Homo sapiens: one gene and its partners. The protein of the gene in region 1 purifies or fractionates together with the protein of each later gene. This does not show direct contact. Each region holds a gene or a part of one and is shown in the gene's direction. Other genes may lie near its edges.

The links. The genes of interacting proteins can lie anywhere in the genome.
Region 2: the proteins of UBE2R2 (region 1) and TGFBRAP1 purify together in Homo sapiens (co-immunoprecipitation; one large-scale study listed by IntAct). This does not show direct contact.
Region 3: the proteins of UBE2R2 (region 1) and UBR7 fractionate together in Homo sapiens (co-fractionation; one large-scale study listed by BioGRID). This does not show direct contact.

What each region holds. Positions count from the first base shown.
Region 1 is NC_000009.12:33,897,160-33,900,659, forward strand, and holds part of UBE2R2 (ubiquitin-conjugating enzyme E2 R2), read left to right. Parts: intron 1-3,014; coding exon 3,015-3,112; intron 3,113-3,500. UniProt on the Homo sapiens protein: E2 ubiquitin-conjugating enzyme that accepts ubiquitin from an E1 ubiquitin-activating protein, and catalyzes its covalent attachment to other proteins by an E3 ubiquitin-protein ligase complex.
Region 2 is NC_000002.12:105,319,736-105,323,235, reverse strand, and holds part of TGFBRAP1 (transforming growth factor-beta receptor-associated protein 1), read left to right. Parts: intron 1-3,500. UniProt on the Homo sapiens protein: Plays a role in the TGF-beta/activin signaling pathway. It associates with inactive heteromeric TGF-beta and activin receptor complexes, mainly through the type II receptor, and is released upon activation of signaling.
Region 3 is NC_000014.9:93,210,256-93,213,755, forward strand, and holds part of UBR7 (putative E3 ubiquitin-protein ligase UBR7), read left to right. Parts: intron 1-392; coding exon 393-453; intron 454-1,776; coding exon 1,777-1,872; intron 1,873-3,500. UniProt on the Homo sapiens protein: E3 ubiquitin-protein ligase which is a component of the N-end rule pathway. Recognizes and binds to proteins bearing specific N-terminal residues that are destabilizing according to the N-end rule, leading to their ubiquitination and subsequent degradation.

The sequences.
Region 1 (3,500 bases):
CTGAGTAGCTGGGACTACAGGCGTCTGCCACCACGCCCGGCTAATTTTTTGTATTTTTAGTAGAGACGGGGTTTCACCATGTTAGCCAGGATGGTCTCAATCTCCTGACCTCGTGATCCGCTGGCCTCGGCCTCCCAAAGTGCTGGGATTCAGAAAAACTCTTTTTTTTTTTTGGAGACAAGAGTTTCGCTTTTGTTGCCCAGGCTGGAGTACAATGGTGTGATCTCGGCTCACCGCAACCTCCGCCTCCCGGGTTCAAGTGATTCTCCTGTCTCAGCCTCCCGAGTAGCTGGGATTACAGGTGCGTGCCACCACGCCCGGCTAATTTTTGTATTTTTAGTAGAGATGGGGTTTCATCATATTGGTCAGGCTGGTCTCGAACTCCTGACCTCAAGTGATCTGCCTGCCTCGGCCTCCCAAAGTGCTGGGATTACAGGCGTGAGCCACTGCACCTGGCCAGAAAAACTCATTTCTACATTTCCCATAGGTTGTTTAAATTGTTATTATTAAAGGAAAGCTCATCTCAAAGCTTCCTCAACAACAAAGCCTTTTATCTTCCACCCCACCTCCCACGCATTCACTGCCCAAATATACCAAGTTTCTCTTTTCTTTTTTCTTTTTTTTTTTTTTTTTGAGATGGAGTTTTGGTCTTGTTGCCCAAGCTGGAGTGCAATGGCACAATCTCGGTTCACCACAACCTCCACCTCCCAGGTTCAAGTGATTCTCCTGCCTCAGCCTCTCGAGTAGCTAGGATTACAGGCATGCACCACCACGCCTGGCTAATTTTGTATTTTTAGTAGAGATGGGTTTTCTCCATGTTAGTCAGGCTGGTCTCGAACTCCTGACCTCAGGTGATCTGCCCGCCTTGGCTTCCCAAAGTGCTGAGGTTACAGGCGTGAGCCACCACGCCCGGCTCTCTTCTTTTTGTTTTTTGTTTTTGTTTTGAGATGGAGTCTCGCTCTGCCGCCCAGGCTGGAGTGCAGTGGCGTGATCTCAGCTCACTGTAACCTCTGCCTCCCGGGTTCAAGGGATTCTCCTGCCTCAGCCTCCTGAGTAGCTGCGATTACAGGTGCCACCACGCCCAGTTAATTTTTGTATTTTTAGTAGAGATGGGGTTTCATCATACTGGCCAGGCTGGTCTTAAACTCTTGACCTTGTGCTCTGCCTGCCTCAGCCTCCCAAAGTGCTGGGATTACAGATGTGAGCCACCATGCCTGGCCTCTCTCTTCTTTTATCTGTAGTAACTTTTTACATGCCTTATGGTATCTAACCATAAGGCAGTGTGTTAGAATATAATATTTTGTATTAATTTTATTTTAAAAATATTTTATATTGATAATGGTTACATATATATTCATATAGTTTCTATGTGTCTAAATTTGGGTTGTATATGTAAGATTTTTGCACTTTATATAGTTATACCTCCAGTTTTTTAAAAATATAAATCTTAAGTCGTGTGTGGTAGCACACCCTAGAGTCCCAGCTATGGGACTACTGAGGTGTGAGGATCACTTGAGGCCAGGAGTTAGTGGCTGCAGTGCACCATGGTTGTCTTATGCATAATCACTGCACTACAGCCTAGGTAACATAGTGAGACTCCCATCTCTAAAGACAGAAAGAAGTTAAATAAATAAATAAATCTTACCTTCCATGTTAGGCTAAGTCCAAGAGATAAGTCACTGTATTTTACCTAACTTTATCTTTTCTATTGAATTGTGTTCTGTATTGCACATGGTGGGCAATCCATATGTGTATGAATTAACCTAAATGTACTTGTGGATTAAGTTGTGTTAAGTTTATGAAGCAAAATATAATAGCCATAGTGGGAAGTCATTCTAACCATACCTTGAGGATGTTAACATTTGCTGCGAGGCATATTTTTGGTTTATATAAGTCATGGTTATTGACATAGCATCTATCTGAGTAGATATTAAGCAAGGTTAGATATTTTTTCTTCCTTTTTATGTACTCTAGGTACACAGATATATCTGAAAACAAAGGGATATATATTTGGCTGCTTCTAAGACAATTGAGTCTTGATTTATTATGTTTGTCTTTTTTTTTTTAAGATGGAGTCTCATTGTGTTGCCCAGGCCGGAGCACTATCTTGGCTCACTGCAACCTCCGCCTCCCGGGTTCAAGCGATTCTCCTGCCTCAGCCTCCTGAGTAGCTGGGATTACAGGCGCGTGCCACCACGCCCGGCTAATTTTTGTCTTTTGTTTTTGTTTTTTTGAGACGGAGTCTCCCTCTGTTGCCCAGGATGGAGTGCATTGGCGCGATCTTGGCTCCCTGCAACCCCCACCTCCCAGGTTCAAGCGATTCTCCTGCCCCAGCCTCCTGAGTAGCTGGGATTACAGGGGAGTGCTACCACGCCCGGCTAATTTTTGTATTTTTAGTAGAGACGGGGTTTCACCATGTTGTTCAGGCTGGTCTCGAACTCCTGACCTTGTGATCTGCCCACCTTGGTCTCCCAAAGTGCTGGGATTACAGGCGTGAGCCACCGCGCCCAGCCAATTTTTGTATTTTTGGTAGAGATGGGGTTTCGCCATGCTGGTCTCAAACTCCTGACCTCAGGTGGTCCACCCGCCTTGGCCTCCCAAGTGCTAGGATTACAGGCGTGAGACACCGCGCCCAGCCCCAGTCAATTTTTTATCAGGATTGTACTATAGGAATAGTAAGTCTTCTCACTAGAAAATATACCTTGGAGATTGGTCGAAATAAATATTATATTTTAATGTTCCTAAGTAAACATAGGGATCGTTTGTTTCATCAGGATTGTTCTATAGGAATAGTAAGTCTTCTCACTAGAAAATATACCTTGGAGATTGGTCAAAATAAATACTTTTAAAATGCTTAATTATTATTTATCTTTGATGTTGAACATAAAAAGCAGAATTGTTTTCTCCTTTGATGAAGAAACAGTTTCTAGGAATAAAGGAAACTTTAGAACCGATGTCCCTTTTTGTACATCACTTTTTGAGTATTTACTGAATGTAATGTTTGTGTCTTGTAGAATGGAGATGTATGCATTTCGATTCTTCATCCGCCTGTAGATGACCCACAGAGTGGAGAACTGCCTTCTGAAAGGTGGAATCCTACTCAGAATGTGAGGTAAGGAGGAATCTGGTTTTGGAGTTATTCTTAATCTCCTTATTGTCTTTGCTCCTAGTAAAATAAAATTATGTATTGTCTTTTAACATGTAAAAAATCATCTTTCTTATATTCAGTTTCTTTGTCTTTAGCTAGAGCTTTAAGAAATATGTATGCGTCATTTTGAAGAGCTGTATTTACTAAACAATAATGTATATGATTCTCATTTCCCTATGTTCACTTAGGAATAGATTTTCAAGCCTGAATCCCTACTCTTAACTTATCCTAGTTCTACTCTGGTTCTTTATTACCACCTAACATTAGTGTCATTCATTGGTTGCAGTTAATAAACAATGTTAATTCATTATAAGTAACTGAAGTCCATACGCTTTCACATTTCCTTTGTTTT
Region 2 (3,500 bases), on another chromosome or scaffold:
AGGCTCTCCCTCCTCATCCAGGCGTCACAAGAGCCACCATCACTGGGACCACAAGAAAACTGGCCTCCAATGCATGCTTCTGAGTCTTTCTCTCTTAAACTTCTCAGGACCAGCCTCAAAAAACATGGGGAATAAGGCAAGGTGTCCCACTGTGTTGCATACCACCCTTTTCCTTCACCTTCCTCCTCACCACCATGGTTTGCTTTTGGCTGAGTCCTCGGTGATTTAGCTTTCTCTCCTAATTATATGGCACCAGCATCCTGACTGGTTGATTGGGAGCTGTGAACGGCTGAAGTGTGCCAAGCTCTGTCTGCCCCCCATCCGTCTCAAAGGCTGTTAGGATCTATGGCAACTTTTGTCAGTTCACTTATAGGTTTGGTTTTTAGAGCTAATATATGATATACAGTCATGCATCAGTTAATGACTAGGTTATGGTCTGAGAAATCTCCCATGGGGCAATTTTGTCATCATATGAACATCATAGAGTGAATTACACAAACCTGGATGGTACAGTGTATTATACACCTGTATAGCTTCATACCCTAAGCTATATGGGTATGGCCTATTGTTCCTAGGGTGCAAACCTATACAGCATGCTACTGTCCTGAATCTCTAAGCACAAGAGAATCTTGTAACACCAAAGTATGTGTGTATCTGAACACATCTAAACACAGAAAAGGGATAGTAGAAATACTGTATAAAATACTAAAAAAAGGGTCCACCTGTATGGGGCACTTACTGTGAATGGAGCTCGCAGGACTGGAAGTTTCTCTGGGTGAGTCAGTGAGTAAGTGGCAAGTGAAAGTGAAGGCCTAAAACATTACTGTACAGTACCATAGACTTTGTAAATATTGTACACTTAGGCTACACTAAATTTATTCTAAAAATACTTCTCTTCAGTAATAAATGAGCTTACTGTAACTTTTTGACTTTATAAACTTCTTTAAAAGTTTTTCACTCTTTGTAATAACATGTAGCTGAAAACATGTTGTATAGCTGTACAAAAATATTTTCTTTATATGCTTATTCTATAAGTTTTTTCTTTCTTTTTTTTTCTTTAAACTTTTTGGTTAAAAATGAAGACACAAACACACACACATTAGCCTTGGCCTGCACAGGGTCAGGATCATCCTTATCCCTGTCATCCACCTCCACATCTTGTCCCACTGGAAGGTCTTCGGGGGCAGTAACATGTGTGGAGCTGTTGTCTGTGATAACAATTTCTTCTTCTGGAGTCCTCCTGAAGGACTGTTTTACAATTAACTTATTTTTTCCTGCATAAGTAGGTGTACGCTCTAAAATAATGATAAAAAGTGTAGTGGAGTAAATACATAAACCAGTAACATAGTCATTTATTATTATATCAAGTACTACATACTGTATGTAATTGAATGTGCTAGACTTTTCAACGACTGGCACTGCAGTAGGTTAGTGTACGCCAGCAACACCACACATGAGTGATGCATTTTGCTACAATGTTCCAACAGTTAGATTGTCACTAGGTGATAGGAATTGTTCAACTCCATTATAACCTTATGGGACCACTGTTGTAGATGCTGTCTGTTGTTAATGGAAATGTCATTATACAGCACGCCACTGTGTTCAGTTTTCCCCTGTGATGGACATTGCTATCTGTCTATGGCTTCATGGTCTTAGTAGATATGTTTATCCAGGTTAATTGAGAAACTGCTTCTCAGAGAAACATTTTTTTTTCTATAAAAGTTCTATATTAAAATGGCAAAATAGAAACTTGAAAAACATCATTGTAGGCCAGGCATGGTGGCTCACACCTGTAATCCCAGCACTTTGGAAGGCCGAGGTGGGCAGATCACCTGAGGTCAGGAGTTCGAGACCAGCCTGGCCAACACAGTGAAACCCCATCTTTACTAAAAATACAAAAAATTAGCCAGGCATGATGGCGGCTGCCTGTAATCACAGCTACTCAGGAGGCTGAGACAGGAGAAGCACTTGAACCTGGGAGGCAGAGGTTGCAGTGAGCCGAGACCGTGCCACTGCACTGCAGCCTGGGCAACAAAGCAAGAGACTCCATCTCAAAAAAAAAAAAAATAAATAAATAAATAAGTCATTGTATTTATACAAAAACTGTAAATTGTAGGAAGATGCAAAGAAAGAAAGATACTCACGCCTAAAGCCAGGATCCCTGCCATCAGCCAGTCAGAGGAAGTCCAGTGTGTGGGAATCTGTGCCGTCCCCCAGAGCCCATTCTGAGGCTGCCCTTGTCCACCAGACGTTGCTACTTTTCATATGGACTAGCGACAGATGAGAAGGAGGCAGTGTGTTTTCCTTTAGGGATTATTACGTTGTTAAATTCGATCCCACCACTGTAGTTAATGGTAACTATTTTCTGACTCATAGTGTTAATCCTTTGGAAAGGTATCTAGAGAGTAGTGTTTACTGAAATCCCTTTTGACAACTGCTTGGTTTGTGGAGTGCCTTGGACACTTACAGGCTCTTTGGAACTCAGCAGCAATTCCGAACTGATTGTAGCTTATACAATAAGAGACTGATATTATGGAACAATAAGAATAGGTTAATAGCTATAATTTTTCTTACTAAATAAAGGAGGAAAGGTTGGCTGAGGTTAAAATTTTAAGGGCTGTGCTTCTTAAGCTGAGTCTGGAGTTTATCTTTTGGGCAGGGAACTACCTTCTGGTATGTTATAAGGAGGATAATGACCTAGTGTTTCAGGTGTGTGGCCCACATTCCTGCCTCCTTTCTGCATTGCCTTCAGATCTGACCTGGCTTTGGTCCAAATGTTAGAATGACCACTTGATCTCTATTCATTTTTGATGGACTATCATAAAGAAAAAAAAAAAACTTCTTGCTGTAAAATGAGAAAATAACAAATCTTACTTGAGGTAGTGTGTCCTTTTTAAAATGCAGATACAGAATTAATTTTTAGCTTATTCATAGGACAGTGCCTTCTATTATAGGGCTGAGTTTTTGCGGTTCCTCCCCCAGGGTGATGAAGTTCTGGTGCACATATAGCTGCATAGGTTTCTGAAGAGTCTGTTTCATTTATAAGCTGTGAAGTAATTAGAAAATGTGAGGGTTTTTTGCAGACACGTAGGACACCAGGCCAAGCTTAAAGTTGGCTCTCAGGTGGACATTATTTGGTAGAGCAGATAACAAAGTGTCATTCTTTGATTCAAGAATAATTACTGGTAAAGAGCCCATTTTAATAAATGCCAGTTTGTCATAGCATTCTTTTTGGCAGAATATATTTATCTCTGTACCAGATTAGGAGTTTCCTATTGTGTGTGTGTGTGTATGTATGTGTGTATATAACATGTATGTATGTATGTATATAACAAATATATATATTTCAATATATAACAAATATATATTTCACTATATAACAAATATATACACACATACATATATGTATATATGCATTAAACACATATATACCTATATATGTTAAACATATATATTAAAATCTTATATATGTATTATGCTAATATTTATATAGTTAATGT
Region 3 (3,500 bases), on another chromosome or scaffold:
TGTATTTTTAGTAGAGACGGTGTTTCACCGAGTTAGCCAGGATGGTCTCGATCTCCTGACCTCGTGATCCGCCCGCCTCAGCCTCCCAAAGTGCTGGGATTACAGGCGTGAGCCACCTCGCCCAGCACTAATGAAATTTAATGTAATTATTTTATATAATTGGAGAGAGTTGTTTCTAGAGCCTTTAAAAACATAATATGGTACAAACTCAAACCATTTATCTTTCCCTGCCATCATTTTACTTGTGTGTTTGTATGTGATATAAATATTTGCTTTTGTACATATTAATTTCCCGAATTGTGAAGTCTTACTATGTGCTTGAATGCTTGAAGAAATTTTAAATTGGATTTTGTAAAAAGAAAAATAAAATTGTTATTTCCTCCTTTTTTCAGAAATTTTCGTTGTGATTGTGGAAACAGCAAGTTTAAAAATTTGGAATGCAAATTACTTCCTGTAAGTAAGCACTGTAACTATAAATGCATTTAGAGCAGCTGAGGTTAATATTTGCCAGAGTGGGTAAAAAAACAAATACCTGTATTTTCCAAAAAAAGAAGTTCTTATGCTTATTCTTTGCAGATGGCCATTTCATTTTTTACTTTGTTAGAAAAACTATATAAACTGTTGAGAGCCTACAAGATAGATGGTAATTAATATGAAAGGTTTGGGGGAGAGATGTACTTGAAAGTAATTCAGGTTTAATTATATTGGTTGTACTTATTCTCTGAGGCTTTTAAATCAGCGGATATGACTTAAAAACAATAAATAGGGTCAAGAGATCGAGACCATCCTGGCCAACATGGTGAAACCCTGTCTCTACTAAAAATACAAAAATTAGCTGGGCATGGTGGCACCCAGTCATCTACTCGGTCAGCTACTTGGGAGGCTGAGGCAGGAGAATTGCTTGAACCCAGGAGGCGGAGGTTGCAGTGAGCCGAGATTGCGCCACTGCACTCCAGCTGGCAACAGAGCAAGACTCCATCTCAAAACAAACAAACAAAAACAATAAATAGGCCGGGCACGGTGGCTCACACCTGTAATCCTAGCACTTTGGGAGGCCGAGGCAGGTGGATCACTTGAGGTCAGGAGTTCAAAACCAGCTTGGCCATCATGGTGAAACCCCCCCGTACTAAAAATACAAAAAATTATCTGGGCATGGTGGTGCGTGCCTGTAATCCCAGCTACTTGGGAGGCTGAGGCAGGAGAATCGCTTGAACCCAGGAGGCGGAGGTTGCAGTTACCCGAGATTGTGCCACCGCACTCCAGCCTGGGCGACAGAGCGAGACTCCATCTCAAAAAAAAAAGAAAAAGAAAAACCAATAAATAAGGCTGGGCGTGGTGGCTCATACCTGTAATCCCAACACTTTGGGAGGCCTAGGTGGGAGAATGGCTTGAACCCAGACCAGCCTGGGCATCATAGTGAGACCCCATCTCTATCAAAAAGAAAAAAGAAGTACCTTGAAATTCCAGGCCAATATCAGTTCACATAGATTGATAATTAATATTTATGATTAACTTTTATCTCCATTTTATTGAATAGGTGTATTTAATTTCTCCTAATTACCACAAAAAAAAACAAAAAAAAATTATTTTTTCCCTGTGTCCTGAAAAAAGTATCCCTTTAGTGGTAGTGAGTTTTTTTTTTCCTACTTTGAAAATTAAAGATCAGCCTCTTGGGGGAAATAATGTGGAAATGTATTGAATGCATAAATTTTATAATGTGTGAAATTATAGTTAAAATTAGACCATATTATTATTGAAATCAATATTATATTTCAGGACAAAGCAAAGGTAAATTCTGGCAATAAGTACAATGACAACTTTTTTGGATTGTACTGCATTTGCAAGAGACCTTATCCTGATCCTGAAGACGAGGTAAGAGAATTGGAAGTTAAACCTGGGGGTGTGTCCCCTCTAGCCTTGATTCCTCAACTGCTTGTCATATCCGAGCCTCTGGCTCTTCAAGAGGCAGTGTGGGATGGTGAAAGGGCTCTAGATTTATCTTTTCTTATGAATCTGGGTTGGATCTATAATTGGTACACATCTCAACCATTCTTTTCATTTTTACATCATAAGAATGAAATATTGGAGAGGACTTTCCCAAAGCCAGAGCTTCTTCCCTTCCTCTCCTTCCCTGACTGCCTCCCCCAGTCCCCAAACACTTTCTAAGAAATGACCTTCAACTTCTTTTGTCTCTTTACGGAAAAAAATGGGGTATACAAACAGCATCCTCTTAAAAACGTCAATGAGAAGTATATGCAAAATTCAAAACGAGTTCTTCCTCACTTCTGCACCTCTTACCTCCCAGGCATAACCACTGTTAACACTTTTGGTGTGTATATTTTTAGTCCTTTTTCTGTGCACATAGAAGTGTTTGAGTGAATGTGTGTTTCAATGTGTAGTTTCCTTTCTATTAACAGAAGTGAAAATTCTGTACACTCACTTCTGCAGCTGGCTTTTCTCACCAGTATATCATAGACATTCTTTCATGTCAACAAAACACACTTACCCCCTTCTAACTGCTGCAGAGTATCCTATAATTTCATATGCCATAAGTTAGTCAACCTGATTGTTCTTCTACAGCAGAATGGCATTGTGTAATTTTTCAATATTATAAAGAAAGCTAGAGTGAACATCCTCATACAGTAATACAACTGAGTATACTCCAAGTATTTATGTAGAATGGATCGGTATAATTGACGGATCAAAGTGTATTTGTGGCATTTAAAATTGTGATTGGCTGGGCACTGTGGCTTATGCCTGTAGTCCTGGCTACGCGGGAGGCTGAGACACAAGAATCACTTGAACCCATGGGGCAGAGGTTGCAGTAAGCTGGGATTGCGGCACTGCACTCCAGCCTGGGTGACAGAGCGAGACCCTGTCTCAAAAAATAATAATCATAATAAATAATAAAATAAAATTGTGATCATATCTGCCAAAAAAGTTGTACCAGCAACAGTATATGATAGTGTTTTTTCCCCAACACTTTTGTCAACCTTGCATATTACCAGTTCTTGAAAATTTTGCCATTCTGATAAATGAAGAATAGTATCTTTTTTTTCATTTTTTTTTTCAGACGGAGTCTCGCTCTGTCACCCAGGCTGGAATGCAGTGGCGCGATCTCGGCTCACTGCAAGTTCCACCTCCCGGGTTCATGCCATTCTCCTGCCTCAGCCTCCTGAGTAGCTGGGACTACAGGTGCCCGCCACCACGCCCAGCTAATTTTTTGTAATTTTAGTAGAGTCAGGGTTTCACCGTGTTAGCCAGGATGGTCTCAATCTCCTGACCTCATGATCCGCCTGCCTCGGGCTCCCAAAGTGCTGGGATTACAGGCGTGAGCCACCGCGCCCAGCCAAAGAATAGTATCTTAAATTTTTTTTTCTTTCCCTGATGATAAGTGAGGTTATGCATCTTTTCATAAGTTCATTGGACATCCATAATAACCTTCTCTCTGAATTGTCCTTTCATATCCTCAGTCCATGTTTTGATTGGTTTGGGTTTTG